3 separate regions of the Homo sapiens genome follow, and all the other regions are linked to region 1. The links come from fine-mapping of genetic effects on gene expression. A gene starts in region 1. Each other region holds a variant in brackets. All regions are shown on one strand. Distances are from middle to middle. Region 1 holds the start of GFI1B (growth factor independent 1B transcriptional repressor). Region 2 holds the start of TSC1 (TSC complex subunit 1). Region 3 overlaps AK8 (adenylate kinase 8).

The links.
Region 2: its variant is fine-mapped to the expression of GFI1B in testis (GTEx, PIP 0.94).
Region 3: its variant is fine-mapped to the expression of GFI1B in whole blood (TOPMed, PIP above 0.99).

Annotation. Positions count from the first base shown.
Region 1 is chr9:132,974,034-132,984,287 of GRCh38, reverse strand. GFI1B (growth factor independent 1B transcriptional repressor) reads right to left here and starts at 5,594. Exons shown (of 7, transcript NM_001377304.1): 1 at 5,447-5,594.
Region 2 is chr9:132,939,229-132,949,482 of GRCh38, reverse strand. TSC1 (TSC complex subunit 1) reads left to right here and starts at 4,867. Exons shown (of 23, transcript NM_000368.5): 1 at 4,867-4,940. MIR548AW (microRNA 548aw) reads right to left here and starts at 3,776; the gene lies at 3,712-3,776. It also overlaps a transcript of GFI1B not described here. RefSeq lists enhancers at 4,150-4,289, 4,650-4,949, 4,262-4,995 and silencers at 4,470-4,549, 5,080-5,139, 5,200-5,259. The variant C/T (reference allele first, on the strand shown) is at 5,289.
Region 3 is chr9:132,755,957-132,766,210 of GRCh38, reverse strand. All of the region lies in intron 11 of AK8 (adenylate kinase 8), which reads left to right. Among named protein-coding and RNA genes, the nearest start is that of GTF3C4, 91 kb to the right of the region's middle. The variant AG/G (reference allele first, on the strand shown) is at 4,033.

The DNA.
Region 1 (10,254 bases):
TTCGCTTCAAGAAAGCCCATGGGGAGGCCAGACCCTAGGGGGAGAGGAGGGGACCCAGTGAGCAGGAGGAGGACTGGGGGTGTGGGGTTCCCCTTGCACTTTGTTTTGAGGGGGCCTGTGAGGGTCATGGTTTGCCTATCAAAATATCAAAAGATGATCCTTTTTTGCGCATAATATTTATGAGGAAATCAACTAGAACCAAAGGTACTCGCCAAGGCTTCTGTGATAGAAGAGGAGCTGGTCAAACCTTCTGGCAGGGGGCTGCTTAGCCTGCCTTGTTTATTACACCTTTAATTCTGATGCTTAATCCAGATGCTGAGTCCCGCTGCTGTCCCATTTTATAAAGAAGGAGCTGAAGCCTGGAGGGCTCAGGACCCTGGGGCAGAGTGAGCAGGGAAGGACTGGGGTCTGTCTGGCCCCAGGCCTCCATGCTCTTGACTTTCAGCCCAGCAGGTGGGCAGTTACTCGGTGCAGAATGGGTGCCAAGTGCTGGGCAGTGCCCGGCATGGGCTTCTCTCTGCAGAGGGAGTGGAGCCGACGTGCTAGGGATGAAAACAGCAGTTTGAAGCTCCCTCGTGTGCCCGTGTCAAGCAGTGTCTTCCCAGGTTGCAGGTGGGAAAACTGAGGTGCAGAGAGGAAAGTGACTCAGACCCAGGGCTCCTGGCCTGTTAGGATTTTACTCTCAAGCCACTGTGCCACCCAGCACTGTCAGAGGTCCTCACAGCACCCGGTGAACACCGCCTGCAGCACAGAGGGAAATGCAGGGTGCTGGGGCAAGAGGGGAGAAAAATCAGGCCGGGTGCAGTGGCTCACACCTGTAATCCCAACATTTTGGGAGGCCGAGGCGGACGGATCACAAGATCAGGAGTTCGAGACCAGCCTAGCCAACACAGTGAAACCTCGTCTCTACAAAAAATACAAAAATTAGCCGGGCATGGTGGCACTTGCCTACAGTTCCAGCTACTCAGGAGGCTGAGGCAGGAGAATCGCTTGAACCCGGGAGGCGGAGGTTGCAGTGAGCCGAGATCACACCACCACTGCACTTCAGCCTGGGTGACAGAGCCACACTCTGTCTCAAAAAAAAAAAAAAAAAAAAAGGAGGGAGAAAAATCAAACCCTCTGACCCTCAAGTCTTTTCCAGGCTCCTAAAAGACCCACATGGCTCCTGAAGAGTCTTGGTGGGGCCAGGCCAGGGACAGACTTCCCTTCAGGAAGCATTGGTATTCTCCTGGGCTCAGGGCCTAAGGAGAACCCAGGTCAACTGACTCTAACCCTGGGCCCCACAACAAGGACACTTTCTAGCGCTCATGAGCCCTGGCCAAGCACTTTTCACTTAGGCACAGGGCAAGATGGGGCTGGCTTCTGGGGTTCTCCAGCCTCAGGAAGGTGATTCTCATGCTTCTTCTAGTGATCTCCCCTGAGCCCCACACCCGCTTTCTTGCCTCCCCCCAGTGTTCTCTCCCCTGAGCTTGGCAAGTGACAGTGACACAGCCAACGCCACGGCCAAGCCCTCTGGCTCACAGAGGGGCCAAATGCACCCGGTGAACTTCCTTTTGGCCCCTGTTAGCAGAGTTGTTTTTTTTTTAAAGAAAAAACAGGAACCAATCACCTATACTGTAGTTAATTAACAACCACTTGGTTTTGATTGACATGAACTCCGTTCTGAGAAGGAGCTAAGAGCAGAGATTATGAAAGAAGCTCAGGAATTCTTCATAAAACAGAGGACTTGATGGTATCGGACCTCCGGAAAGAGGCTCACTGTTATCACTCCATAACCCCCGATCCTGATAGAGTCCCCCTGACCCTGAGTCAGAATCTCAGTCAGTGCTTCTTGAAGACAGGCGACCCTGCACCCTGGCAGGAGCCAGCACCCTAACTTCCAGTTGGACTTGGGTCAACAGGCCTGTGATGTCCCTGTAATGAGGCCCCTTTGTTGCCCAAGGAGTTGAGTCTGATTTGGGGTCCTGGAGCTTGTGACCGCATCAGCCACCAACCTGGGGCTTGGTTTTCCTATCTCTTAAAAGGGACGGTTGGGCTAAGAGATTTCTAAACTTCCCTTTTGCTCTAAAATCCCATGTAGAATTCGTTGACCTTCAGTGAGAGATTGAACCACCTTGACTAAAAGACTTGTCACTCGGGTTCCCCTTTTGGGAGGGTTGGGTAAGACTCAGCTGGTTCTCAGGGTCAGCTACAGAGAACCTTTTTGACTTCCTTTATGTTTAAAGACTCAAGGGAGGCCGGGCGTGGTGGCTCACGCCTGTAATCCCAGCACTTTGGGAGGCCAAGGCAGGCGGATCACCTGAAGTCAGGAGTTCAAGACCAGCCTGGCCAACATGGGGAAACCCCGTCTCTACTAAAAATACAAAACTTAGCTGGGTGTGGTGGCAGGCACCTGTAATCCCAGCTACTCGGGAGGCTGAGGCTGGAGAATCACTTGAACCCAGAAGGCGGAGGTTGCGGTGAGCCCAGATGGCGCCACTGCACTCCAGCCTGGGTGACACAGCGAGACTCTGTCAAAAAAAAAAAAGATTCAAGGGGAAAACAAGACTTGTCCGTGGAGGAGTCGGGGGAAAATGAGCCCAGGTCAGGCCCAGGGGCCCCAGCAGAAAGTAATCATCATCATCATCACCATCATTATTATTATTATTTTGAGACAGAGTCTCACTCTGTCACCTGGGCTGGAGTGCAGTGGTTTGATCTTGGCCCACTGTAACCTCCACCTCCCAGGCCCAAGCGATCCTCCCATCTTAGCTTCTCGAGTAGCTGGGACTACAGGCATGCACCACCACAGTTGGCTAATTTTTGTATTTTTTGTAGAGACGGGGTTTTGCCATGTTGCCCAGGCCGGTCTAAATCATCATTTTTATTTGAAATTTAGAAGGAGTTCTCAAATGTCTCCTCCAAAGCTCAGAGAATGCAATGTCAAAAGTGAGTGAATCTACTTCTGGGTATAGACCCAAAATCATTGGAAGGGGAGACTCAAAGAGATATCTGCATACTCATGTTTATAGCAGCACTATTCACAATAGGCAAAAAGTGGAAGCAACCCAGGTTTCATGGCAGATGAATGTCCAAACAACATGTGGTCTATGGCCAGACTTAGTGGCTCACACCTGTAATCCCAGCACTGTGGGAGGCCGAGGTGGGCAGATCACCTGAGGTCAGGAGTTCCAAGACAAGCCTGGCCAAAATGGCGAAACCCCACCTCTACTAGAAATACAAAAATCAGCCAGGCATGGTGGTGGGTGCCTGTAATCCCAGCTACCCAGGAGGCTGAGGCAGGAGAATCGCTTGAACCCGGGAGGCAGAGGTTGCAGTGAGCCAAGATCGCACCATGGCACTCCAGCTTTGTGACAGAGACTCTGTCTCAAACAAACAAACAAACAAACAAAATGTGGTCTAGACATATGATTGAACATTATTCGGCCTTAAAAAGGAAGGAAATGCTGGCGCATGCTACAACATGGATGAACCTGAAGGATTTATGCTAAGTGAAATAAGCCAATCACAAAAGGACAAATACTGTGTGATTCCTTATATGAGTCCCTAAAATAGGCAATTTCATAGAGACAGAAATAGATAGAGGTTGCCAGAGGTGAGGGGAAGGGAATGGAAGTTACTGTGTAATAGGTATGAAGTTTCAGCTTTATGAGATGAAACAGTTCTGTGGATGGATGGTGGTGATGGTTGCACAGCCATGTGGGTGTACTTAATACCATTGAATGGTACGCTTGAAAATGGCTAAAACGGGAAATTTTATGTTATATGTATTTTATCAAAATAAAAAGACAAGTGAGTGAATGAAACTCTTTCTGCATATCTCTATATTATAGACTAAAGCAGCTCCCATTGGCTTGAATTCCTGGCAAGGAACACACGAAAAGCCTCCCTCTAGACTAAGAGGGGGTGGTGTTTGCTGATGTTTCAACCAAGGGTCTGGATATTGTGGCACAGACAGTGAAGAATCCCATTTGATCAGGCTGTTTTCCCTGGGTGATCTGGAGCCATCTGGTCCCAGAGCCTTTGAAAATCCTTGTACTGTCCAATAAGATTCCCACCCACCCTACCCTGCCCCGCTGAAAGCTTCGGGGCAATGGTCTGCGCTGGTTTTGAGTGATTCCATTAATCAAACCGAAACCAGGTATAGCTCTCCAATGTTCCCCAAGAACTCTCTTCAGGAAGACCAAACTCTGACAGAAAGAGCAAGGGGAATTACGCATTTTCTTGTCCAAAGAATTCCTTCTGCAATACTTCCGAGGACAAGAAACTTGACACTTTGCTAGACTTGGAAGAAATATTCTGCCTGTTGCCTACTAAGAAACATGCAGGCGCGTCCAGGCGGTCAGGTGCAGCTCAGCTGGCTTCTAATATCTACCAGACTCATGCCCACAGATTGTAATCGAATTTACTCCCTAAGAACTCGTGAAAGCTCTGGACTTTCTCCCCGGAAAAATGTACACGGGCACATACCCACGGCGATTCTGCAGACCTCCTCTTCACAAGTCCTGTTTTAGAGTGAGCATGTCTCCTCAGATGCCTCAACACTTAAACTTGGTTTTTTTTCTCCAAAAATAGGTGGAAAGGGCTAACAACAGCCACAGGGAAAGGCGAGCTGAAACAGTACCTCTCCATGGTCGGTCCTATTGTTCCTGGAGCCTGGGCAGTGTGTGGGAGAGGGCAGCCCTGTCATCTCCCCTTAGTAGGCTCTGGAGGGGAGAGCGCCTGACTCTCAAAGTGTCCTGGGAATTTGGCTGGGCGCAGTGGCTAATGCCTGTAATCCCAACACTTTGGGAGGCTGAGGCAGGTGGATCGTTTGAGGTCAAGAGTTCGAGACCAGCCTGGCCAACATGGTGAAACCCGTCTCTACTAAAAATACAAAAATTAGCCAGGCGTGGTAACACGCGCCTGTAATCCCAGCTACTTGGGAGGCTGAGGCAGGAGAATCGCTTGAATTCGGGAGGCAGAGGTTTCAGTGCAATCGCACCACTGCGCTCCAGAGTCTCACTCTGTCTCAAAAAAAAAAAAAAAAAAAAAAAAAAAAGTGTCCCAGGAACTTTAGTCAAGTCCCTAAAGTCTGGGACTGTCTCCGAGGGGGAACACAACTCAGGCACTTGGAAGTGTGTCTCCCTGAGCACTGCCCAGGTCCCCAGGACAGCTGGGTTGTGGGTATGACTTTGTGCCCGAAGGTGACGTCTGTCAGCCTAAAATCAAATTTTGAAAAGTGTTTCTGCGCAGCCGGCAAAGGCGCAATTCCTAGCACAGTGGCTCAGACGAGGCTACGTCCTCACCCTGTTTCTCCCTTGGCTCCTTGCCTTCCAGAGCTTTTCCAGCCCACCTCACCTTTCCTAGGACCGCAGGAGGAGCCAGGGAGCCTGCTGTGAAGCCACCTGCGGCGCACAGGCACATTTCAAAACAAAAGCGTAGAAACGCATCCTCCAGCACTCACCTGTCCGGAGCTGTCCCTCGCCTGGGTTCTGCCGGAGCTTCCCGAGGTGGGAACTGCAAAGCCTCTCTCGGGACTGGCCTCCACTCTGTCAACTGTGTGACTCTTTGCACAAATAGATACTTCTCCTTTTTGCTCTGTCTCTCTGTGTGTTTTTCCTCTTCTGTTCCCCTCCCTGATTTTCAATCTGATTATTTGTGTCAAAATCTGGCGGTGAACAAGCAGCCAATGAAGAGAGCGCGGGAGCTCAGCCGTATTTGCTTATCAAAACTTTCCAGGACACAAGACTTCGAATTCTCATTTCTAACCCTCGACACTTGGAGCGGCACGCTTTCTCTCTGCAGAGAAATTCAGAATTTCGCTGGAAATTTTGAATAACATCTGCACAAAAAGAAAGTGATGGCTAAATTATTAAATTTTAAAAATTAAAGTTAGAAAAAGCTCTAACTTATAAAACTCGATTTTGCATAGGGAAGTCATTGCTCTTTGGTTTTTTTCTTCTTTCTTTTCTCTTGCCTTTTTTCTTCCTTCCCTCCTTCCCTCCTTTTTCCTTCCTTCTCTTCCTCCTTTCTTTCTTCCTCCCTCCCTGCCTCCTTCCTTCCCTTCCTTATTTTCCTTCTTCCTCCCTCCTTCTTTCCTTCCCTCCCTCCCTCCTTCTCCTCCTCTCCTCTCTCTCTCTTCCCTCCTTTCCTCCCTCCTTTTTTCCCTGCCTCCCTCCTCGCTGCCTCCTCCCCTCCCTCCCTCCCCAAGTTCAGCACCCTGAGGCTTGTGAGAGCCAGGCTGGTGCAATGCCCCTAGTACCCGAGCCGGCCACATGCATAGAGGCCCCTCTTGTCCTTGCAGAGGTCATATCTCAGAAGAGACATCAAATTTGCATTTCCCCCAGATATGACCTTTGAGCGGGTAGAGGCACCCTGGAGGTGTGGCAGTGAGTTCGGAGGCCAGGAGACGCTCGGCCTGCTGAAGCTGCCATACAGATTGAAGGCCAGGTGCCAGAGCCCGTGTGTGCTGCCCTCTGGTGGCAGACAAAGTGATGGGGAGGCCAGTGGGGGCCTCTGGGGTGTCCCATTGATGCTGGGGGGAGTGAGGGCGGTAAAGCTTGGCTGAGCTGGCTGGGGCATTTCTTCCCATTTGGCAGGGCGTCCCATCCCCTGGCTCCCCACCTTCTCCCTCCTCCTCTGGCCCCCGCCTCCTCCCGCTTGCAGGATGACTGATTTATTTCAGGAGGTTTTGCATAAGATGAGAACGCCACAAACAGAGCACTGTTAGGCTGCTTTGTCTGCTCTTCCAGCCCGGGTGCTGGAGATATTATGTTTCCCTCATAAAGAAAACAAGTCTGGTGACAGGAAGCCCCAATTTAAACTGCAAGTCCAAGGTTCAAAATGAAGAAAAAGGGGTGTTTCAGGCGAGGTCTTTCTGCTGGGCCAGCCCTGGAGCACCAGCCAGGAGGACACAACCCTGTGGTCACCAGGCCTCAGTAATGCTGGGGTGTCAGTCCCAGCCCCAGGCTACAGACAGCAGACCACTGCTCCCAGCTCTGTGGTCTCTCTTGGTGGAAAGAAACATCTTTTTAAAAAATTATTATTGGCTGGGCACAGTGGTTCACGCCTGTAATCCCAGCACTTTGAGAGGCCGAGGCAGGCGAGGATCACTTGAGATCGGGAGTTCAAGACCAGCCTGACCAACATGGAGAAACCCCATCTCTACAAAAAATACAAAATTAGCTGGGTGTGGTGGCACATGCCTGTAATCTCAGCCACTTAGGAGGCTGAGGCAGGATAATTGCTTGAACCCAGAAGGCAGAGGTTGCGGTGAGTCCAGATCGCACCATTGCACTTCAGCCTGGGCAACAAGAGCAAAATTCTGTCTCAAGAAAATTATTATTATTATTATTATTTTCTTAGAGACAGGAGTTGGCTTTGTAGCCCAGACTGGAGTGCAGTGTTGCAATCATAGCTCACTGCAGCCTCGACCTCCCTGGCTCAAGAGATCCTCCTGCTTCAGCCTCTTGAGTGGCTGGGACTACAGGCGCACCACCATGCCTGGTTAATTTTTTTATTTTTTTTAGAGATGGGGTCTTGCTATGCTGTCCAGTCTGGTCTAAATCATTATTTTTATTTGAAATTTAGAAGTTCTCAAATGTCTCCTCTAAAATTCAGAGAATGCAATGTCAAAAGTGAGTGAATCTACTTCTGGGTATAGACTCAAAATCACTGGAAGCAGAATCGAAGAGATATTTGCACACTTACATTTATAGTGGTACTATTCACAATAGGCTGGTCTTGAACTCCTGGCCTCAAGCGATCCTCCTGCCTCAGCCTCCCAAAGTGCTGGGATTACAGGCACGAGCTGCTGTGCCCAGCCAGGGACACATCTTGAGTATTCTGTGGGTGTTGTACATTGCCAACAATCAGCTAGAACTGCTTGTCATTATGCAGAAAACTTAAAATATTCTCTCCAAGTCAACAAGTCCCCAGTTTCCTCATGTTCTCACTTCCCTATACACACATACACACATTTTGCTACTGTAAACCAGCGTGTCATTTTCCGTGAAACATGATTTTATGGAAGTGCTTCCTAAGTTCGTTTGCAGCCTTTATTGACATCTTTAATGGTTTCACCATTAAATCTTTAATGGTTTCATGGTTTATCTCACCAAACGCTTCCTCCACTTGTTTAGGGTGTTTTCTAATAGGAAGCGGCTGTATCAGGCACATGCAGTTCAACTGCTGTTCTAAGATTGTAATCCCACTTTAGGGTCCCTACCTTCCCCCGTGAGTAACTGACACAGGGACAGCCTTCCCAGACCCAGACCAGGGACCCAGCCTGCAGATGAAGCCACCCAGGTTCCCCTTGATGGGAGAGCAGTGGCCAGGCAGCCAGTCCCCTGGCATAGCAGTTGAAGCCAGGAGTCCCCAGCCAGCCTCACCCAGGCCCTTACAGCCCTGGACTTCCCATGCTCTGTGTCCCCTCCAGGGCTGCCTGTAAAGCTACCAGCACTTCCCTTAGTGAGCAGCCCTGGAGTCAACACCTTCATTTAGTCTCTCCCAAGAGCTAAATCGCTTCCGCATTCCCATGCCCATTCATCAGTTTATTCATTCATTTAACAGTTACCATTAGGTACCTTTCGTGTATCAGCTCTTTCCTTCCCTCCCTTATGTAACACATGTGTATCGAGTGCCCACAACAAGGCACCACATGCTGGGGTTTCAAAAAACAGCCGGACTTTTCATATTCCTTCCTGGTCTAGAGGGTAGGAAAGAGCAACCTGAAATTTACAATTTGGGGTGACAAGTGCTGTGATATAAACATAGTATACAAAAGAAGCCTGGGGCATTTGGAAATGGACCCAGGCTTGGGGGGGTTGGTGAAGGAAGTGATATCTAAGTTGATGCCTAGGCTAAGTTAGTTGGGAGAAGGAAGGTAGGGAAAAGTGTCTCAAAGAAGAACAGCATTGTGCTAAGAGCTGGAGGTCCCCTGAAGGGAGCTGACAGCAGCCAAGTTCATTAGGGAAGAAACGCAGACTGAAGGAAGGGGAGGGAAGGTTAGGACTTTTGAGAGCTGAGCCTAGAGAAAGAAAAAGAACAAAGATCAGGAAGATTCTTCCCTGGTTTAAAAACCTTCAATAATTTCCCTTTACCTTTAGGACAAAAATCTCAGCTTCAGAGATCAATACTCCGTGTTTTTCACAATGTCGGCACCCTTTCAAATAACAGCACTTTTCCAGATGCGAGTTGCAGGAAGTTTCAAAAAGATGGGGTCTTGCTCTGTAGCCCAGGCTGGTCTTGAACTCCTGGTCTCAAGCAATCCTCCCAAGCTCCTGAGTAGCTGGGATTACAGGTGCATGCCACCGTGCCCAGTACAGAAACACAATTTAAACTCATTTAATAATAACAATGAAACAATTAATTCATGTCACAGAAAATTTTCAGCTTCTGACATGGTTGGATCCAGATGCTCAAATGATACTGTCTGGAATCTCACTCATTCAGGTCATTGGCACTTCTCGTGCCCTCTGCCTGGATGGCCTAACTCTCTGATTTCCCCAAGCCTGTCTCCTTCTTGTCATCCAGGTCTTAGCGGAAATGTTACTTCTGCAGAAAGACCTCCTTGACCTTCAACTAAAGTAGGACCTCCCCACCCCAGTCACTTTCTATTCCTTCACCCACCCCTTTCTTCTTAGCATTCACACTTATCTGAAAATATCTTGCTTGTCTTCCCTTTTTTTTTTTTTTTTTTTTTTGAGACGGATTCTGGCTCTGTCGCCTAGGCTGGAGGGCAGTGGCACAATCTCGGCTCACTGCAACCTCCTTCTCCCAGGTTCAAGCGATTCTCCTGCCTCAGCCTCCCGAGTAGCTGGGATTACAGGTGCCCGCCACCAAGCCTGGCTAATTTTTTTGTGTTTTTAGTAGAGATAGAGTTTCACCATGTTGGCCAGGCTAGTCTCAAACTCCTAACCTCAAGTGATCCTTGCCTGCCTCGGCCTCCCAAAGTGCTGGGATTACAGGTGTGAGCCACCGCGCCTGGCCATCTTCCTATCTTTTAATTCATTTATTTATTGCTCTAACTTCCCACAAGGAATGTCCATGCTACAAGAGCAGGAACTGTTTTTCCAGGCACACAGCTCAGGGCTTAGACTCTCCAGGGCTTAGAACAGTGTTTGGGAGACACTAATGATATCTTCACAGAGTGAATAAATGAATGAATGAATGACTCTCTCTCCATCATCTCGGCTTTGCTTCCCTCTGTGTTGGCCTCATCCTCACGCCATGATCTCTACCCACTTTATGCGGCTCTTATCTCTGGGCCTA
Region 2 (10,254 bases), 35 kb after region 1:
TCCACCAACACCATGTATCTCAGTCTTGGGGTCTCTCGGTTCTAATTCTCAAGAAGGAGAATCAGGCTGGTTCAGTGTGAGGAAGGTTTTCAGCCCTGATCCAGGTCCAATCAGGGGGTTGGGGGTGTGTGTGTGTGTGTATGTGTGTGTGTGTGTGTATCTGTGGGTTTGGCTTGATGTGTGTGTGTGTGTGTGTGTGTGTGTGTGTGTGTGTATCTGTGGGTTTGGCTTGATTCACAGTGAGTAGCCTGGGCTGAAGATAGATTCTCTAAGAAGGGGCTGTAGCAGTTGGGATCCTGGTGGGAAACAGTAACACCCTCCAAGGGATAATTAAAAAGACAGGTGTGAGCAGCTTCAGAGAAAAAAGAGGTGCTGAAGCACCTAAGGACTAGTGAGCTGTGGGGATCCGTGATCACCTCTGGGTGTGAAAAGTGAGTGGGGGAAACCATTACTAACACCACGGGTGAGACAGGCCACGCAGCAGGAGCTGTGCCTCACGGCCAGGCCAGGCCAGGTGGGAAGGCTCTTCCTCGCTCACCTGACCCTGCCGCACTTTGGTCAAATCCAAGAGGAGGGAGAGGACATGCTTAGCGGGTGTGGCTCAGAGGGGAGCCCAGACAGAGAAGGGCAAACGGAGAATGACCAGCACAGGCTGCAGAGGCCATCTGGTGCGGAGGGAGAGGAGACGGCCTAAGCCAAGGTAGGGCGGTGTGAAGCCTCTGGGCGTTCCTTGGTACTGGAGGACACGGTGCTAGAAAGCAAGGGGAAACTGATGCGCTAGAGAGGCCGGGGCTGCAGAGGGCCTTGGGGGCTGCCAGCAGAAGCTCAGACCCCATCCTGCGGGGGTTGCCCACCAACGGCAGGGCACCTGGCCAGGAGGCTGCTGCACAGAGAGCTGAAAGCTAAAGCCAAAAGGCAATTCAAGCGGATGAACTTCGGGCACAGAGTGGGAAATATTTTTGGCTGGTGGTGTCCTTCCAAAGGCCTCTGAATCCCACCACATCCAGAAGGCCTTTTGTTGATGAGGGTCAGAAATCCAATGAAACTAGCATTGGCCAAAATAGTTATTGCTTCATGGAACTTGGAAGGCCAGGGCAAAGCTGGTTTCAGGGACTCCGGAAATGCAGGAGATAGCAGCATGAATTTCTCTTTCCATCTCTGTCTCTTTCACTCTTTAACTCGACTTGTCACACACCTTGCTGTAGGACGGGGGAAGGGAGAGGCCACAGCTTCCTCATCGCAGTTTAGTGACCCCAAAGGAAAGAGAAAAATTGCTTTTTTTTTTTAAACACCCATCTATAAAGACCCAGAGGAGCACTCTAGTCCAGCTCAAGTCACAGGTCCACTGTAGACCAACCATTTCAGCTTGTTAAAGCAAATGAAATATGGCCTGAGAAGGACTCCGTACTTTTATATTTGAGTCCTTGTGGACGAACCGTAACCTAGCTTAATAGGCACGCAAAATTGAAAACCTAACTTAGTAGTATGCACTTGTAACAATAGCTGAGTGTTGGCCAATCCCAGCGGCCATACTTCAACCACTCATAGACTGCTGAGTGTTCAAACTGTTCAAATACGGCAAACGCCGAGCTGCAACCAATCTCACTGTTTCTGTACCTCACTTCTGATTCCTGTATGTCACTTTAGTTTAGTTTTTTTTTTTTTTTTTTTTTGGAGACCAAGTCTCTCTTTGTTACCCAGGCTGGAATGCAGTGGCACAATCTCAGCTCACTACAACCTCTGCCTCCCAGGTTCAAGTGATTCTCCTGCCTCAGCCTCCTGAGTAGCTTGGATTATAGGTACCCGCCACCACGCCTGGCTAATTTTTGTATTTTTAGTAGAGACAGGGTTTCACCATGTTGGCCAGGCTGGTCTCGAACTCCTGACCTCAAGCCATCTACCTGCCTTGGCCTCCCAAATTGCTAGGATTACAGAAGTGAGCTACTGCGCCAGGCCACTTTACTTTGTCTATAAATTTGTTCTGACCCCGGGAGTCTCTCTGAATCTGTTGATTCTAGAGGCTGCCTGATTCATGAATTCTCTTTTTCTTTCTTTTTTTTTTTTTTTTTTGCTCGATTAAATTTAATCTAATTGAACTTGTCTTAAGCTTTCTTTTAACAAGCTCCATGATGGGCATCTCAGATTGGCCAGGCCTGGTCCACCTGCTGTGGCCTGGGGCTGGTACTGTGATTGTGAGGACCATCAGCACTGAAAGAATTGAGGATGGGCGGTTCACCTGTTCAGAAGGCGAGGGGGAGATGTCACACAGCCAAATGCAGCAGATGTCCTCCACCACGTGCATCCTGTCAGCACGCCCGCCTATGGAGGGCTCAGCCCTTTCATGCTCAGACAGGCCGGTCAGGAAGCCCCGTCACAGGGAGGCTCCAGGGTGGTGTATGGAAGGTAGTGGTCTGAATAGTGTCTGTTGAGCAAATGACAAAAATCAACCCCAGAGAAGCAGAAAACATCTAGGTGGCCCAGCCTGGTAAGTGGCAGGAGATGGTAGTAGAGCTGTCTCTGCCTGTCACCTTCAGCCTCTTCTTGCAAGCCCCTGGTGGTCCCATATTGAGGTAACAATGCCCATTCTTCTTCCAGACAGTGTAGAAACAGTGACAATGTGGTTATGGCCCCCTGGAAAGTGAGCAGTTGATGAGCTCTGCTTATGGCTGCTCTCCTCCATGGCAGAATGCATTCCTGCAGGATGAGGTCATGGAGCCAAGGAAGGTCAGGGTGTGGGGGGGCTTCCTGGGTCAGAGCTCCAGAGCAGTGCTGCTCCCCCTGCCCTCCTCCTTAGGTCTCCCATCACTGGTGGTCTCAGAAATCTCTGAAGATTTCAGAAATCTTGAATCCCTTCCCTGGTGTGAATGCAAAGGGAAGAGTCTGTTCCTGTAAAGTAGTTTGCAGATTGGTGGAACTGAGAGAACCCAGACCCTTCCCCGTTTCCCTCGACCTTTCCATCTCTGGACCCCATGCAGACTATGCTTGGGTGGTGACACAGAAGAATTTAGTGTTTGGTGGACCCGTTTCTGGAAGTGATGGATGCTGACAGCTGGCACTTAACAGTTATCAAAAATAACATTAACTGGAGTAGGCTCTGTGCCACTTAGAGCTTAATGACTCACTGACTTCACCCCAAATCCCCATGAACTAGCATTATTATTAGCCCTATGTTGCAGGTGAGGAGACTAAGGCTCATCCAGTTAGAACATGATGGCTGAAACCTACATTCAAACTCTGGTCTGTTTGAATCTAGAACTCTTAGCTTCCCCCCAGCGACTGTGTTAGAACAGAGGAATCATCAGTTCAATTTTCACCTCCCTCCTAAGCCTTCGTGGCTCTAGACGTATGGTTATAAAGGTTGTTCACTGCTCAAGGGCCCAGGAGGGTTTGGGGCTGGTGGATAGGGGCCAAAATACAGCCCAGGGGTGCCATTTTTCTAATTCTCACCAAGGCCCTATACTGACTAGCAGCGGCTCTACCCGATACCATCCAGGGCCTTTTCAGAATTCTGAAGGCACCCACGGTGCTGGCTACTCACACACCTGGCCCCCCTTAACCATGGCTGCCTTGCACTGTGACCCAATTGGTTCCCATGACAAAACCTGTTATTCCCATAACTCACCCAACACTTTTTTGCCCCTAGGCTCTTGCTCCTTTGGTTCCCTCTGCCTGGAATGGCCTTCTCTCCCGAGCCGCCTCGCCTGGTTCTATTAGGTTGATGCAAAAGTCATCGCGGTTTTAATGGTAAAAACCGTGATGACTTTTGCACCGACCTAGTATTTCACAAAACCTACATTTCCTTTAAAACCCAACCTGATGCCTACTCCTTCAAAATGCCTTTCATATCCCACAGTTCGACTTCATCTCACTCTGCCTCCTCTCACAGGGCTTTGTGTTCGTGCTGGATGGAGCCCATCATACTCAGCCTCGCAATAAAGGCCACCTATCTAGTGAGTGAGCATTTACTAGGCGCAGGACTCTGGGCTAAACGCTGTCCATACTTCATCTCCTTGATTCTTCACGTCACAGATGTCATTATGCCCATTTCACAGAGGAAGAAACTGAGGCTTGGAGGACTTAAAGCCTTGTTTCAGCAGGAAACGGAATAAGGCGTTCTGATTTTCAAGCTGTCTCCTATTAGGGCTGGTTTCCCCTAGATGTCATGAGTAGGTGTGAAGTGTGAGCTACTTGAAGGCAGAAGCCAGGGGGGTCCCCCGCAATCCCGGAGGCGGGCTTCTGAAAATGTTTAGCCCAGGAAGGAGGGCTGCCCTGGCCCGCAGCTTTCCGCCCCTTCCCAGGTGAGCTGCAACTCCAAAGCTCCCAAGCAGGCCCTTCACCCACGCGGGCCCCAGCAGCTCCTTGGGAAACAGGATCGCTGCTCTGAGGCCGCCCACAGAGAGACCCTCGGAGGGCGCCACGCAAGCGAAGGGCAGAAACGACTCGGGGGGCAGGGGCAGGGCGCTCCAACCACACCCAGGCGCCGCCAGCTTGTTTACGCCTCTCCGCCGCGTCCCCCCGCCCGCCAGTCACGTGACCGCCCGCCCCGCCCCCTCGGGCTCTCGCGTGGCTCCTCCCGCCGCGCCGGCCCTTCTTTTTGCCTCCTTCGCGGAGTCACAAGATCTCTTCGCAGCCTCCTTTCGGATCCTTCCGCCCGGCCCCGCCCCCCTCCATAAAAACCCTCCTTACTTTTTTTCTCGTCCAACCCACATCGTCAGTTATGAGTGGAAGAGCCTCTTCCTTCCGGCGGGGCTGCCGAGCGCGGCCGTCTATCCTTCCTTTCGAGAAGGAGGGGAGGTCCGGAGGGGGACTCTTTTTCGTGGCGGAGGCCGCCGTCGGCCTTGGCCCTTTCACGACGGGGGAGGTGCTGTACGTCCAAGATGGCGGCGCCCTGTAGGCTGGAGGGACTGTGAGGTAAACAGCTGAGGGGGAGGAGACGGTGGGTGAGTATGGGGGTGTCTCCCCCTCCTTTTTATGGGGGCTTCCTGGGGCAGCCCCGGCACCATGACTCCAGCCGGGGAGGCTCGGAGGGGCTGGAGCAAGAGACTCACTTGCTTGGTAGGGATCCCGGGGAAGGGGGGTTCGGAGAGCTCTCCCCTCCCTCTTATTACACGCTATCTCCGGCTGGCCCGGCCGGGACTGGCGGGTCCCTGGGGAGGAGAGGCGAGCCGGACGGAGCACTTCGCCCCTCCTTGGCCCCCGAGGGGACGGCTGCACCCTGGGCCTCGGTCCCTCGGGCAGGGGCGAGGTGGGCCCCTTCGTCAGTCCCTCACTTGGTGGGGTGACAGGTT[C/T]ACGCTAGGTGCGGAGGGCAGGGTAGAGACGCTTGGCGGGAGGGGAAGGGTCGCGAGGGTGGGGCTGGTCCCAGAACTTAAAGAGAGGGGTCGGGGTATAGGGGCGTGGAGAATGAATGGAGGTCGCCTGTGGGGATCAAGGACTCGCCTGGATTCGGTGTCTCCGCTGAAATTTGCATGACTCGCTCTGGGTGTACTTGTGGGTGTTTAATTGGTGGTGAAAGACAGTTACCTTAAAGTGGGCAAAGGGGATTCCTAAGAGACAGCTATTTGCAGAGCCCCTCCTAGGCGTTCATTCATTCATTTGAGGAACTGGAGGATGAAGAGCCTGCAATCGGAGGGACCTTGTAGAATTAAAGCTCTTTCTTTGTGTTTCCTGTTAAAGAGTTTTGCTTTGTGTGTTTTGGATGTGTGGTGAGGACTTGGGAGGGGACGCGGTCCTCCTAAGAACAACAGCTAACGTTAATGGAGTGCTCTCTGTGTGCCAGGCACTGTGAAAGTGCTTGGCAGTCATTATCTCCTTTGGTCCTCACGACAAAGAGAAGAGGCAGCCACTGTTAACACCTCCAATCTTCTCAAATGAAGAAACTGAGGCCCGGAGAGAGCAGGGTACTTTGCCTAAGTTCACACCCCAATTGTATCTGAGCCAGGACTGGAACTGCTGGGATCTGACTGACTCCAAAGATATGACTCTTAAATTTATCTGTTATTTGATCAAAGCTGGCCTGTAAGTGATTAAAATTTATCATTTAGCCAAGGTTTATGCACGTGTGTCTGTTTAATGTTGAAGTGGGGGGATGCACTTGGCTTATCCGCCTTAGCTTTTGTTTGGGATGGCAGTGTTGTGCATGTGAACTTGTTAGTCTAAATTAGGCTAAAAAGTATTTGATAGTTTAATAAAACTGATGAGTTTACTGAAGAAAGAAGTCCTGCTAAAATCCTTGCTGGCTTTTTTTTTTTTTTAAATAGAAAGCATACAAATAACACTTCACGTTGCATAGAGTAAGCTATAAAAGTGCTAAAATAGAATAATACTCTTCTGAGATACTTTGATTTATAATTTTGGGATCAACTTGGAGTCATCTGAATTCAAACAGGCCGGCAAAGTGGAGCTGTAAATTTCAGGAAGCATTATAAAACCTAATCTTTGGGGAGCCTTTGATTTACCGAGCAACCACCTGTGATTCTTAAATTGAACATTCCTGAGTAAATCTGGAATATGCAAATGTGAAAACTGATTTAGGGTTGTGTAGGGAAATGCACCTTTAACAGTCATGCATCAGGCAAATGAGGCTCCTCAGAAACAGTGAAACATTCTTTGCTATTGCCCTAGGGAGCTGCAGAATCTTCCTCTAACCACCTGGTGTAAACTTAAGGGGTATTTATAGAAGATGTAAACGGAAAATATCCTCTTACTAAAGTTAATATCTTATCCAAAACACTCTTATATCACGTGCCTAGAAGGGCAGATGATGTAAACTTTCTCTGCTGCATGCATTTCCTGGTGTCATAAACACTTGGTACGTTCCTAAATTCCTGGTTAGAAAGCAGGTGGCTACCAGCCTTCTTGTTTCCATAAAATTAGAGTGCTTCAGGTCCTGTGACTCAGTTGTCCTCTTCCTCACTGGGTTAAGAGTAAAAACTGATACTGCTACTGTTGTGGTGTAATATGATGCCTTCTGTGCATGCCTGGTTTCATTCGTGAGATGAAACTTAACAGTCTTACTAGGGCAAATCTAATATATACCTCTATATGTAATGTTTGCAGAATAATGAACTTGGTGGAAACGAGATCTGAAACCCTAGTGCTCATGAGAACCTTGATGTACAGATATTTGGCACTATACTAGGTAGACCTACATATTCGGACACCTTGTATATATATTTTGGAAGAAGACTGATTCTTATGTGCACCGGAGGTTGAGGACCACTGGCTTCAAGTATCATTCTGGCTATTTTCATTTATTATTTATCACAGAGGTATTTCTTAAAATAGCTTGTAGCCTTTTATTTGTGTAGTGGTGGGTGAATTTTGGGCTCTGAATTAGAGCTGACTTGTTCTTATAGCTCTGTCTTCATTTGAAGTTTGTTTGGCTACAGGTATGTTTATTTCTGGGTTCCAGGGCCATAGTGAACTAAAATTAGCTTTTCCTGGAATTAATTGGATATTCTTGAATGCCGATGAGCCAAATATAGCAATATCTCAACCATTTCAGGCTTTTCTAGAGAGTCAGATAGCTTTTGACCTTCAGTGGGTCACTTAAGTTCTGTGAGCCTGTGTCTTCATCTGTGAAGTAAAAGTTGGAATGTAAATTAATGAGTATTTCTAGGCCTACATTTCTGTGATTTAAAGTCCTTTGGGGTGTCATTTAAATATTCTGACTAAATCGATTGAGTCAACCTGTTAATGGTTTTATAAAAACCAAGCAAATTGGTGACTTTGAGCCTACCCTGTTGGGTGAAGATCTGTTTATCATTTATCCTTTCCTTTACATCATAATACTCTTTGAAAAGGTAATTCCCTATAAGTTTCCCATATTATAAATCTCTGAAAGGTTAGTCTTTGCATTGGTTTTGTCATTTAAGTAGCTGAAGGCGTGAAAGAAAAGTGTACTTAATAGCGTTAAAATCTGTGGCTGTTTGCTTGAAATGTGTATATGTAGTATACACTCAAACACTGAGTTTGTTTTTTTTAATCTCAGATCATGAATTGGTAACTAATATAATTTGGGTAGCATGAAATACTCATTCTCCATTTAAATTCATCTGAAAGAGGTAAACTGTCAGCAGTTTGAGATTATTCTTTCTCTGGTTTACTTTTTAAGACTGTAGTTGCTAGAAATTAGTAACTTTATGTCTGTTTTCATGGGAGAGAATAAAAATGCAAATTTTATATACTGTGTATAAAATACACTGTCTCAGGACCTTGTCAGTTTCTTCTTGTCCTTTCTCTCGTTCAGTGCTAACTTTTATTATGAACATGGAATCAGCAAAAGATAACAATACTTTTTACGGTTGAATGAATTCAGATTTACATCTAATAAGTAAAATGTCTTAAAAACCATGCTTTAGTCCAAAATAAAGCATAGTAGTTACTGCCCTACAACTCACAGGTCACTCTCTTAAGTAAATATGATGGCAGTAGAGGCCCAGAAGTGTTGGAGTAACAAAGGACAGTTTTGCCCTTCTGTGGGTGATGTGATGGAAGACACAGAGGGGAGCTGTAGGAAGAACAGAGGCAGTGACCTTAATGTCTGCAATCATTAAGACTCTGCTACTTTGAGTAGTTCACAGAGCATAGTAACAAACTTGAACTGTATCCATTTTAAGTTATACAATGGTTGTATCAATGTTTCAAATACCAGTTGTTAAATGGATAGACTGCTAAGCATTATGTACCCAGCAATCCATTTTTGTGAAGTAGTAATATTGTTATAATAAAGTTTATATTTTTTGAGTACTCATGTGCCAAACACTGTGGTATTTTACATGTCTGATACCCCATTAACTTCTTACAGCCTTAAGAGGCAGGATAGGAAGAGGAAGCAGGCTTAGAGTAAGTTGCCTATAGTCACTTATTCAGTGGCTAAGCTGGGATATGAACCTTTTTGGTTGACTCCACAGCCCAAACATTTAGTCTTCCACTGTGATAAACTGCTTCATCTGCTGACCTCATAAATTAACTCACAGGTCAGGTCAGTGGTTCTTAACTTTGGTGGTGGTGGGAAGGTGTGTGGACTCAGTTGCCCTCTGAAAATCTGTGGGAAGCTATGGACCAAATTTCTCTTCTACCCTTTATGTCCCATCATCACCAAAAAAATTCATACAGACATGGGATTTTGGATATGGCTTCAGGTAATTTATGGACGCAGCTTGAAACCCAGCTGATCATTTTAGATAGATTACTGCTCTAAAAATGGACTTAGGCTTTATTAAAAAACTTTTTTTTTTTTTTAACTAGTAGTCAGGAAAGGCCCAAGTCAGAAGGTGGCCTTATGTACTGTCTGGGTTATAAATTACTTTGTTAAATTTCTGTAGTGTACCCAGGTATGTAACCTGCTACGTGCTTGTCAGGCTTGGCATTCGGTCTGTGCTGGTACCTTTAGCACCTGGCAGAATTCCACTGGGCCTTTTCCCCAAGGTTTATGCACTCTATATATTTTTTTCCTTTTGAACCTCAAAGGAGGTATATTAATGAATGAATGTTTTTTACCTTCATCCTTCTTTTTCCTAGACCAGTGGTTCTGAACCTTTAGTGGACGTCAGAATTACCTAGAAGGCCCCACCCCCAAAGTATCCAATTCCGAGATCTAGTGAAAGGCCTGAGAATTTACATTTCTAACAAATACCCAGGCTCCTGCTCGTGGTGCCAGGACCACATTTTGAGAACCACTGCCCTAGACTATCAAACTATACCCTTCTTCCCTAGAATACTTCTATTTTGGTCCTATAAACCTGAAACCTAAAGATATCTCACAGTTTGCTTGTATCTCTTTTAGGAGAAGCTCTGCGTAGTGTCTTTTTGAAATATACATGGTATCTGTTTGGCCTGTATTATCTTAGTAAATAATGTTGTTCATGTTAATAGAAAGTCAAAACGTAAGCATTATTTATTGAAGAGATACGCCTTACCAAAATTAAGCTCTGGCCTTACACTTAAGTTACTAGAAGATTCTTCACCTTTGGGATAGGCTATAAGCTTTAGCAAACCATCCATCAAGGCCCCTGATGGCAGAAATTCTGAATGGAGAATCTGGCAAGTTGGAGCTCTCCTGCCCCAGTTTGTCCTTGAGAGGGACTCCAACTACTAAGACCTATTCAATCACACATGACTACACATGTTGGCAGGTTTTACCATCAGCTGTTTTACTCTCACATAGTAAGTAGTTATTTCCTACCCTTTTTTCCTTCCTTCTAGGCACTGATAGGAAGAGAGAATGGGAGCAAGTATCTTACCCTTTTTAGA
Region 3 (10,254 bases), 220 kb after region 1:
GAACCTGGGAGGTTAAGACTGCAGTTTGCCATGATCACACCACTGCACTCCAGCTTCAGCAACAGAGCAAGATCCTGTCTCAAAAAGAAAATTTATTCTTAGGTATTGTTTTGTAACAATGGTAATTGGGATTGCTTTCTTGATTTCTTTTTCCACCAGTTTATTCTTGGTGTATAGAAATGCTACTAATTTTTTGTATGTTAATTTTGTCTTTTGCAACTTTATTAAATGTGTTTATCAGTTCAAAGAGTTTTTTGGTAGAGCATTTTAGGGTTTCCTATATGCAAAATCATGCTATCTGCAAACAGGGATAATTTGACTTCCTCCTTTCCAATTTGGATGACCTTTATTTCTTTTTTGTGTCTAATTGCTCTGGCAAGGACTTACAGTAATGTATTGAATAAGAGCGATGAGAGTGGGCATACTTGTTTTATTCCAGTTATTAGAGGAAAAGCTTTCAACTTTTTCCTATTCAGTATAAAGTTAGATATCGGTTTGCCATATATATGAGCTTTATTGTGTTAAGGTATATACTCCTTCTATACATTGTTCGTTGAGGGTTTTGTTGTTGTTGTTTTGCTTGTTTATTTTAGAGACAGGGTCTCATCTTGCTATGTTGGCCATGCTGGTCTTGAACTCCAGGGCTCAAGTGATCCTCCCACCTCAGCCTCCCGAGTAGCTGGGGCTACAGGTGTGCACCACTGTCCCCAGCTTGTTAAGGGTTTTTATCAAGAAGGGATGTTGAATTTTATCAAATGATTTTTCTGCATCTATTAAGATGATCGTGTGGTTTCTGTCTTTCATTCTGTTGGTGTGATCTATTGCATTTATTGATTTGCATATATCGAACCATCTTTGCATCCCTGAGATGCACCACATGATTATGGTGAATTCTCTTTTTTTTTTTTTTTTTTTTTTGAAATGGAGTCTCGCTCTGTTGCCCAGGCTGGAATGCAGTGGCATGATCTTGGCTCACTACAACCTCCGCCCCCTGGGCTCAAGCAACTCTCCCGCCTCAGCCTCCCGAGTAGCTGGGACTACAAGTGCGTGCCACCACGCCCAGCTAATTTTTTGCATTTTAGTAGAGATGCGGTTTCACCGTGTTGCCCAGGCTGGTCTCAAACTCCTGAACTCAGGCAATCTGCCCGCCTTGGCCTCCCAAAGTGCTGGGATTACAGACGTGAGCCACCACGCCCAGCTGGTGAATGATCTTTTTAATGTGCTGCTGGATTCAGTTTGTTAGTATTTTGTCGAGGATTTTTGCTTCTGTGTCCATCAAGGATGTTGGCCTATAGTTTTCTTTTTTTGCTGTATCTTTGTCTGGCCTTGGTATTAGAGTAATGCTGGCCTCATAGAATGCATTTGGATGAATTACCTCCTCTTCTATTTTGTAGAAAAGTTTGAGAAGAAATGGTATTAGGTTGGTGCAAAAGGAATTGTGGTTTTGGCCATTACTATCAGTTAGCTCTTCTTTAAATGTCTGGTAGAATTCAGCAGTGAAGCCATCAAGTCCTGGGCTTTTCTGTGATGGGAGACTTTTTATTACTGATTCAATCTTGTCACTCATAATTGGTTTGTTCAGTTTTACTATTTCTTCTGATTCTATCTTGGTAGGTTGTATGTGTCCAGGAATTTATTCATTTCTGTTAGATTTTCCAGTTTGTTGGTGCATAGTTGTTCATAATAGTCTCTAATGAGCCTTTGTATATCTGTGGTACCAGTTGTAATGTGTCCTTTTTTGTTGCTGATTTATTTGGGTCTTTTCTGTTTTTTTCTTGTTAATCAAGCTAATTGATTTTGTTAAAAACTGACTTAATTTTGTTGATCTTTGTATTTTTCTTTTAGTTTTATTTCTGCCCTGATCTTGTTTTTTTGTTTTTTGTTTTTGTTTTTGTGTTTTTGAGACAGAGTCTTGCTCTGTTGTCCAGGCTGGAGTGCAGTGGTGTGATCTCAGCTCACTGCAACGTCTACCTCCCAGGCTCAAGTGATTGTCCCACCACAGCCTCCTGAGTAGCTAGGACTATAGGTGCACACCAACACACCCAGATAATTTTTTAAATTATTTTTTAGTAGAGACAGGGTTTCACCATGTTGCCTAGGCTGGTCTTAAACTTTTGGACTCAAGCAACCCACCCACCTTGGCCTCCCAAAATGCTAGGACAGGATTGCAGGCATGAGCCATTGCTCCTAGCCTGCTCTGATCTTTATTATTTATTTTCTTGTACTCATGTGGGGTTGGGTTAGTTTTTGCTTTTCTAGTTCCTTGAAATGCATCATTAGGTTATTTGAAATCTTCCTACTTTTTTTGATGTTGGTGTTTATCACTATAAACTTCCCTTTTAATACTGCATTTGCTGTACCCTGTAGGCTTTGGGATTGTTAAAAGAAAAACTTTAGACAAATTAAATTCAGCAGACTTTAATTAAGCAAAGAACAATTCATGAATTGGGCAGCCCCCCAAACCAGAACAGGCTCAGAATGACACCAGCGCTGCCAAGTGGGTGGAGTGGATTTGTAGACAGAAAAAGGAAAATGATGTGACATACAGAAGATGGAAACGAGGTACAAAAACAACTGGATTGATTATAGCTTGGCATTTGCCTTATTTGAATACGGTTTGAACAGTTGGCTGCCTTAGTTGGCCAAAACTTGGTGATAGGTACAAAAATAAGTTACAGTCTGTTTACGCATCTAGTTAGATTACAGCTTACTGTGTATAAAGCAACCTTTAGGCCAAACTTAAAATATGTAAGATGGCAGCCTTAGGCTAAACTTAATTGAAGAGTGTGTGTTTCTATTTTCCTTTGTTTCAAGAAATTTTTTAATTTCCTCCTTAATTTCTTCATTGACCCATTGGTCATTCAGGAGCATGTTGTTTAATCTGCATGTATTTGTACAGTTTCAAAAGTTCCTCTTGTTATTGATTTCTAGTTTTATGCCATTGTGGTCACAAAAGGTACTTGATATGATATCAATTCTTTAAAATTTGTTGTGACTTTCCCCCAAAAGCAAGGCACACTCCAGCGGTAGCTCCAGCTTCAAGATGGTGTCATACAGCAGCCGGCTGGCCACAGTGGCAGGGTACTGTGTCACCTCCTTCTCTAGGGGAGCACAGCTGTGTAGATACTAGACAGCTCTCTGCATGGGCATAGGGCCTGTGAGGACCCCAGTGGTGAGCAGGTGTCCAAAGGGTGGTGGGAGCTGCTGGAATCCTCTTTTCTACCTTTTCGCTGTAGGAAGACGTTCCTCCTGGTTCCTGGCTGACTCTGGCTGGAGGATGGGCAGTGGAGTCCTGTTGTTTCCTTCCTTTTTCTTTTCTTTTTCTTTTTCTTTTGAGATAGAGTCTCGCTCTGTCACCCAGGCTGGAGTGCAGTGGCACAATCTCAGCTCATGCAAACTTCGCCTCCTGGGTGCAAGTAGCTGGAATTACAGACATGCACCACCACCCCTGACTAATTTTTGTATTTTTAGTAGAGACAGGGTTTCTCCATATTGGCCAGGCTGGTCTGGAACTCCTGACCTCAGGTGATCCGCCCGCCTCAGCCTCCCAAAGTGCTGGGATTGTTTCCTTCCGTTTTCTATGTGGCTATCCAGAGTTTCTTTGCTCACCAGGGTTTCTGTTACTCCTTTGATGAACTCCAGGACTCACTCCTGTATTTATTTTCATTTAAATATAGTTGTTTATTCACTGTTTGGCCGTCTTTGTGGAAGGGAGAGCTGACTAGAGGCCTCTAGCTAGTCATCTTCCTGGGGTCACTCCAACATCATCTACTTTGATTTTTTAATTGAAAGGAGTCACACATTGAAGGAACATAAATGGTATTCAGTGAAAAATAAATCTCAAAAGAAGAACAGTTGAAAATTAATGATCTAAGCCGCTGACCTAGGTTAAAAAATTACTAAACTCAAAGAGTAGCTGGAGAGAGAACAGAAACCAATGGAATAGTTAACAGAGCTTGGGTAGAGCAAAAGTGGATTCCTTGGCAAAATTAATAAACCGACAAATCTCTAGCAATATTGATCAATTAAAAA[AG/G]AAAGAATGGCCAGGCGCAGTGGCTCATTCCTGTAATCCTAGCACTTTGGGAGGCCAAGGTGGGCAGATCACTTATGGCCAGGAGTTCGAGACCAGCCTGGCCAACATGGTAAAACCCCATTTCTACTAAAAATACAAAAATTAGCCAGGTATGGTGGCATGCAGCTGTAGTCTCAGCTACTCGGGAGGCTGAGACACAAGAATTGCTTGAACTGGGGAGGTGAAGGTTGCAGTGAGCTGAGATTGCACCACTGCACTCCAGCCTGAGCTACAGAACAAGACTCTGTCTCTAAAGAAAACAAAAGAGAGAGAGAGAGGAAGAAAAGAAAAGAAGAAAGAAAGAGAGAGAGAGGGAGAGAGAGAGAAGGAGGGAGGGAGGGAAGAAGAGAAAAAGGGAGGAAGAAAGAAAGGAAAGAAAGAACAGATTGACATATTTGAAATGAAAAAGAGGATGAAACACATTTTGATAATAAATATAGTAACATAAATATAACAGATTACAAGGATAGGAAAAATATTACAAACAACTTTATGGCAATACATTTGGAAACATAGATAAAACAGATACATTCATAGGAAAAAAAATCTTATGAATAGTGACATAAGAAGAAATAGAGGCCAGGTGCAGCGGCTCATGCTTGTAATCCCAGCACTTTGGGAAGCTGAGGTGGGCAGATACGTGAAGCCAGGAGTTTGAGACCAGACTTGCCAACATGGCGAAACCCTGTCTCTACTAAAAATACCAAAATTAGCCGAGCATGGTGGCACATGCCTCTAATCCCAGCTACTCGAGTGGCTGAGGCATGAGAATTGCTTGAACCCGGGAGGCAGAGGTGGCAGCCAAGATTGTGCCACTGCACTCCAGCCTGGGTGACTGAGTGAGACCCTGTCTCAAAAAAAAAAAAAAAGAAAAGAAAAGAAAAGAAAAAAGAAATAGAAAATCCAAAGTCCCATAACTATTAAATAAATTGAATAATAAAAATGAATTGTTCCCCTCCCTTAAACACTAGGCCCAGATGCCTTTTACAGGTGAAATCTACCACAGTATTCAAGGAATTGATTATTCCCATTGTGAACAAACTCTTTTCAGAAAACAGAAAAAGAAAAAGAGGGAACACATCACAATACATTTCATAAGATTAATAAAGTCTTAATGTGAAACCCAAAGATAATATAAATAAGAAAAATTACAGGCCAATGTTATTCGTAAATATAGTTGCCACAATCCTAAACAAAATATTAGCAAATCCAATCCAATTGTGTATTAGGGTATTCAAGGATGATTCAACTTTAGAAAAGCTATTACTTGAATTCACAATAATAAGAAATTAAAGAAAAAGAGATATAGCTATTTCAATAGATGAAGACAAAGCATTGGATAAAATTAAATATCTATTCATGATTTTAAAATTCTTAGCTATAAACTGAAGGGAATTTCCTTAACCTGATAAAAGATACCTTCCCAAACTATAGCAACCATAGGTCTTAGTGGTGAAATGTTAGAAGCATGCCCTTTAAAATCAAGCATAAGACAAGGATTCCCCCATCATCATTTCTATGAAACATTATTAAACAGTGCAGTAAAGACAAGAAAAGTAAATAAAACCTCTAGGACTTGGGATGGAAGGACCAAAAGTCATTATTGGCAGGTGTTATGATTATCTACATTAAGAAAGCCCCAAAGAATTTATGGAGTACATAATAGTTTTAGTGAGAGTTTAGCAAGGTTACCAACTAAAAGATCAATAATTAAAGATCCAAAGATTATTTACACTTTCTTTGGCAACAGAGAGTTGGAAAATGTAAAACTAAGATAATAATCAACAACAATGGCCAGGCACAGCAGCTTGAGCCTGTAATCTCAGCTACTGGGAGACTGAGGTGGGAGGATCACTTAAACCCAGGAGTCAGGGCTGCAGTGAGCTATAATCATTCCACTGCACTGCAGCCTGGGCAACACAGCAAGACCCCATCTCCAAAAAAAAAAAAATTAACAACGTATAGCAGAAGAAAAGTGTACACTGAAATAAACACAATGAAAGATGTATAAGCCCTTTATTGGAAAAACTGTGTAAGTTTATTAAAAGGCATGTAAGAATCCCTAAGAGGGAGGCAATGTCTCGTTCATGGTTAGGGACGCTAATATTATAAAGATGTCACCCCTTCCCAAATTGATCATAGATCCAGTGGAATCAGAATTAAAATTCCAAATTGTTGGTAGTGGTTCTTTTTGATGCAACTTGCTGTGCTCATTCTGCATTTACATAGAAGAGCAAAGAGTTAAAAATTTATCAAGTTATTCCCGAAGAAAGACAAAGTGGGAGGACTTGCCCTCTCAAATATCTATTTATTTTAAAACCATTAGGACATTGAGGTGTTAGCACTAAATTAGATCTACTAACCAGTGACACAGAACACAGAGCCCGGAAACACTCACACTTGATAATGACAGGGGTGGCACCACGGATCAGGGGGAAGAGATGGACTTTCCAATAAATGATGCTGCGCAACTGGGTACCCATGTGGGAAAAAATTACCTTCGACAGCTACTTGCCCCATATATGTAACAATCAATTCCAGGTAGTTTAAAAGCTTAAATGTGAAAGACAAAACTGTAAAACCTTGTAGAAGAACATATACGAAACTATCTTATGATCTTGGGATACAGAAGTCTTCCTAAAATAAGACCCAAAGAGCGTAAACAACAAAAGAAAATAAATAAATTTGACTACATTAAAATTGAGAACTTTTATTCAGCCAAAGGCATTCATCTGAAGAATGAAAAGACTCAATCTGGGATAGGCTAGTTGCAACCAAAACAGAGTTAGTATCCAGAATTTATAAAGAGCTCCTATAAATGAATGAGATAAAGTATGCTTAATATAAAAATGGGCAGAAAAATCAGGAACAGATCATAGAATTCTGGGAGTGTGCTAAAACCTGTGGAATTGTACATTTCTATTTTTTTTTTTTTTTTTTTTTGAGACCAGGTCTCACTGTGTCCCTCAGGCTGGAGTGCAGTGGCGTGATCACAGCTCATTGCAGCCTCGACCTCCCAGGTTCAAGCAGTCCTCCCACCTTGGCCTCCGTAATAGCTGGGACTACAACACACCACCACACCAGGCTAATTTTTGTATTTTTTTGTAGAGACAGGGTTTTGCCGTTTTGCCAAGCCTGGTCTTGAACTCTGGGGCTCAAGCGATCCTCCCACCTCAGCCTCCCAAAGTCCTGGGATTACAGGCATGCGCTGTCATGCCCGGCTGGAACTGTACACTGTAAATAAGTGAATTTTATGGTGTGTGAATTATATCTCAGTAAGGCTGTTTTGTTTTATTTTTTTAAGACGTGAACATGGATTTCACAAAAGAAAAAACACAAGGGCCAAAAAACAGAAAAAGTTGCTAAACCTCATTAGAAAATGGAAAATGCGGTGGCTCATGCCTGTAATCCCCACACTTTGGGAAGCTGAGGCAGGCGGATCACTTGAGCTCAGGAGTTAGAGACCAGACTAGGCAACATGGCGAAAAACCATCTCTACTAAAAATGCAGAAAAAAAAAAAATTAGCCAGGCCTGGTGGCACAGGCCTGTAATCCCAGCTACCTGGGAAGCTGAGGCAAGAGAATCATTTGAACCAGGGAAGCAGAGGTTGCAGTGAGCCGAGATCGCACCATTGCACTCCAGCCTGGGTGACAGAGCCAGACCCTGTCTCAAAAAACATAAACAAACAAACAAAAAAAAAGAAAATGGAAAATACGAATTTAAATCATAATGGTACATTGTTTTGTTCCTGCCAGCTTGTCAAACATTAAGTCTGTCCAAACCAAGTACTGATGAGGATATGGATGAGTAGGAAGCCCTGCTGAAGAGCATTTAGACTTTTTTCTTTCTTTCCCTTTGCAAATGGTTCTGTAATAAACATGCCGTATGTGTGGCTCCGCGTATTCGTGTGACTGTTTCTCCAGATTAAAAGCCTGGAAGGGAACTGTAGTTGCACTTCTGTTTTCAATGGGTGCCACCAAAGTGCCCAAGAGCTCATAATTCTACTGGTGGCAATAAAGAATTGGATGACTGAAAGTGATGGATGCTTTGGAAATGACGGAAACGTCCAAGAAACAAAGGCTTCATCTAAGCTGGGTGATGCCACATGGCAGACCATGAGGACATCAGGACAGCGATGTGAGGGACAGCCCCCAGAGCCATCAAAACTGCAGCCCTGCCCAAGTTAGTGGCCCAGTTCAGTGGAATTGCCCTCCTCGTGCTCAAGCTGTGGAAGTGTTTATCATCATGAAACTTAAGGTTTAGGGACCTTTTTTTTCCCTCCCTTAGGATCAATGATGGATTTAAAATATCCCTAAATGTTTTCTTTCAGGAATGGCTATATTACCCACGGCAGTTCTATTTTGATAGACAGATAGAGTATTTCAGTAATGACAGTTATTTCCATTTTTAGTGTTTCGGGGGGCTGGCCACAAGAGGGAACAGAAGGGGCAAAGGCCTGGAAACAGGAACCAGATCCACCTCTGCGGTTGCCGCCTTTCGGAGCCTCAGTTTCTTCACTTGCAAAGTGGAATTAGCAGTCCACATTGTGTGAAGTTGCTGTGAGGGTCAGTCAGGTAGTGCATACAGGTAAATGTGAGGGAGTAATAAATTGTAGCAGTTTTGTTCCAGGCTCGATATTCTTTCTGTATTTCCCATACAGGATGGGATTAACCAGTAGGCCCCCAGGCATAGCCCGGATTGTTCTATAAGAGAGTGGGTACTGCTCATCAGAGGAAAAAAATGGCCTCTTTTTCTCCTTGTCTTCTTCACCTGCCGTGAGATGGCGGGCCCTCCTTCCCCAGAGGCCAGCGGGTTGGACACGGCCTCGTTGGTGCAGTGAGGGTGACGGGGGGAGCCCATCCTAGCCTTGTCCTGCTCCGGAACCCTCTGACCATCCCGGTGAGCTGTGGAAGCTTCTCTCCCGCTAACGGTGGGAATCACCAGGTCCCCGTGGCAGCTTCTGGATTGAAATGTCAGTCACTCTGGCTGCCCCTGGACACACGCATTCCGTTGTCATCTGTCGGGTGCCCACGGCAACTGCTGCGGTGTAATAGAGACAAATGTAGCACCAAACTGGAATGCGATGATTCCGAAATTATGTATTTAATTCACAACTGATATAGAGTGCTCATAAAATCTTGATCATGATAGAGAGGCAATAAACATTTGAGAACATAAATATTTGGGGGGGAAATGGCTTTGTGAAACATTTAGTTGTGGAGTAGTTAGAAGAACAGAGAAAATCAGCCAGGCAGAACTCTCTAGACACGAGTCCGTGAGTTATAGATGTAGGGCTGATAATGACCTTGAGTGAGTCGTTTTATGGGGGTGCGGAATTCGCCTGTCTCTAAAGGGGGGATGATGACAATGGCACCTGCTCACAGGGTGTGATGAGAGATAAATTAGGTGACGTGCGTTCGGTGCTTACAGAAGCCCATTTTGAGCTTCAAAGAGTGGGACAATCCAGCGCCCTCTTGCTTGCTCAGAATCAGGTCAGTGAGATGCCGGCATTTCCCGTGAGAGGGTGCTTCAGATTCTGTTCGCACTTCGGAGTGTGGCCCCCGGCAGCTGATCGCCTCTCCCCTCACCTTGGCAAAACATAGATTTGTTATCAGTGCAGAAGGTGGTTTAAAAGGAATTTGTTACCATGAACAGTGAATTTTTAGGTATGCAAATGATCACTTAAGAAACTGCTTCGCAGGTTGCAGGCGCCCTCCCTCTGGCTCCCCGCCTGGCTTCGGAGCCAAGCTCCACACCTCAAGGTGCCTCTAGGAGAGAGTTGGGCCCGACAGCAGCTTTCCCCAGACACTGCAGAAGGCAGAATGGCTTAAACTGAGGGCCTCAAAGCTTTCTCTCTAGAACCTGGGAGCTTCTTTTTTGGGAGGAGAATTCTTTTCTATGCAAGAATGAGCTGCTGTTTTTGTACTTCCTGTGAGAGGAAAACAAAGGGAAGTGGAATTTATGTACACCAGGAAGAGTCTGGACAAAATTCTTTAGTGTCTGTAAAGGTGGCAATGGGAGGAAAGCTAAGGGCAGCTGAGGAATACACCTCATTTTAAAAAAGTCTTTGAGTCTAGGTGTGGTGGCTCATGCCTGTAATCCCAGCACTTTGAGAGGCCAAGGCAGGTGGATCACTTGAGGTCAGGAGTTTGAGACCAGCCTGGCCAACATGGTGAAACCC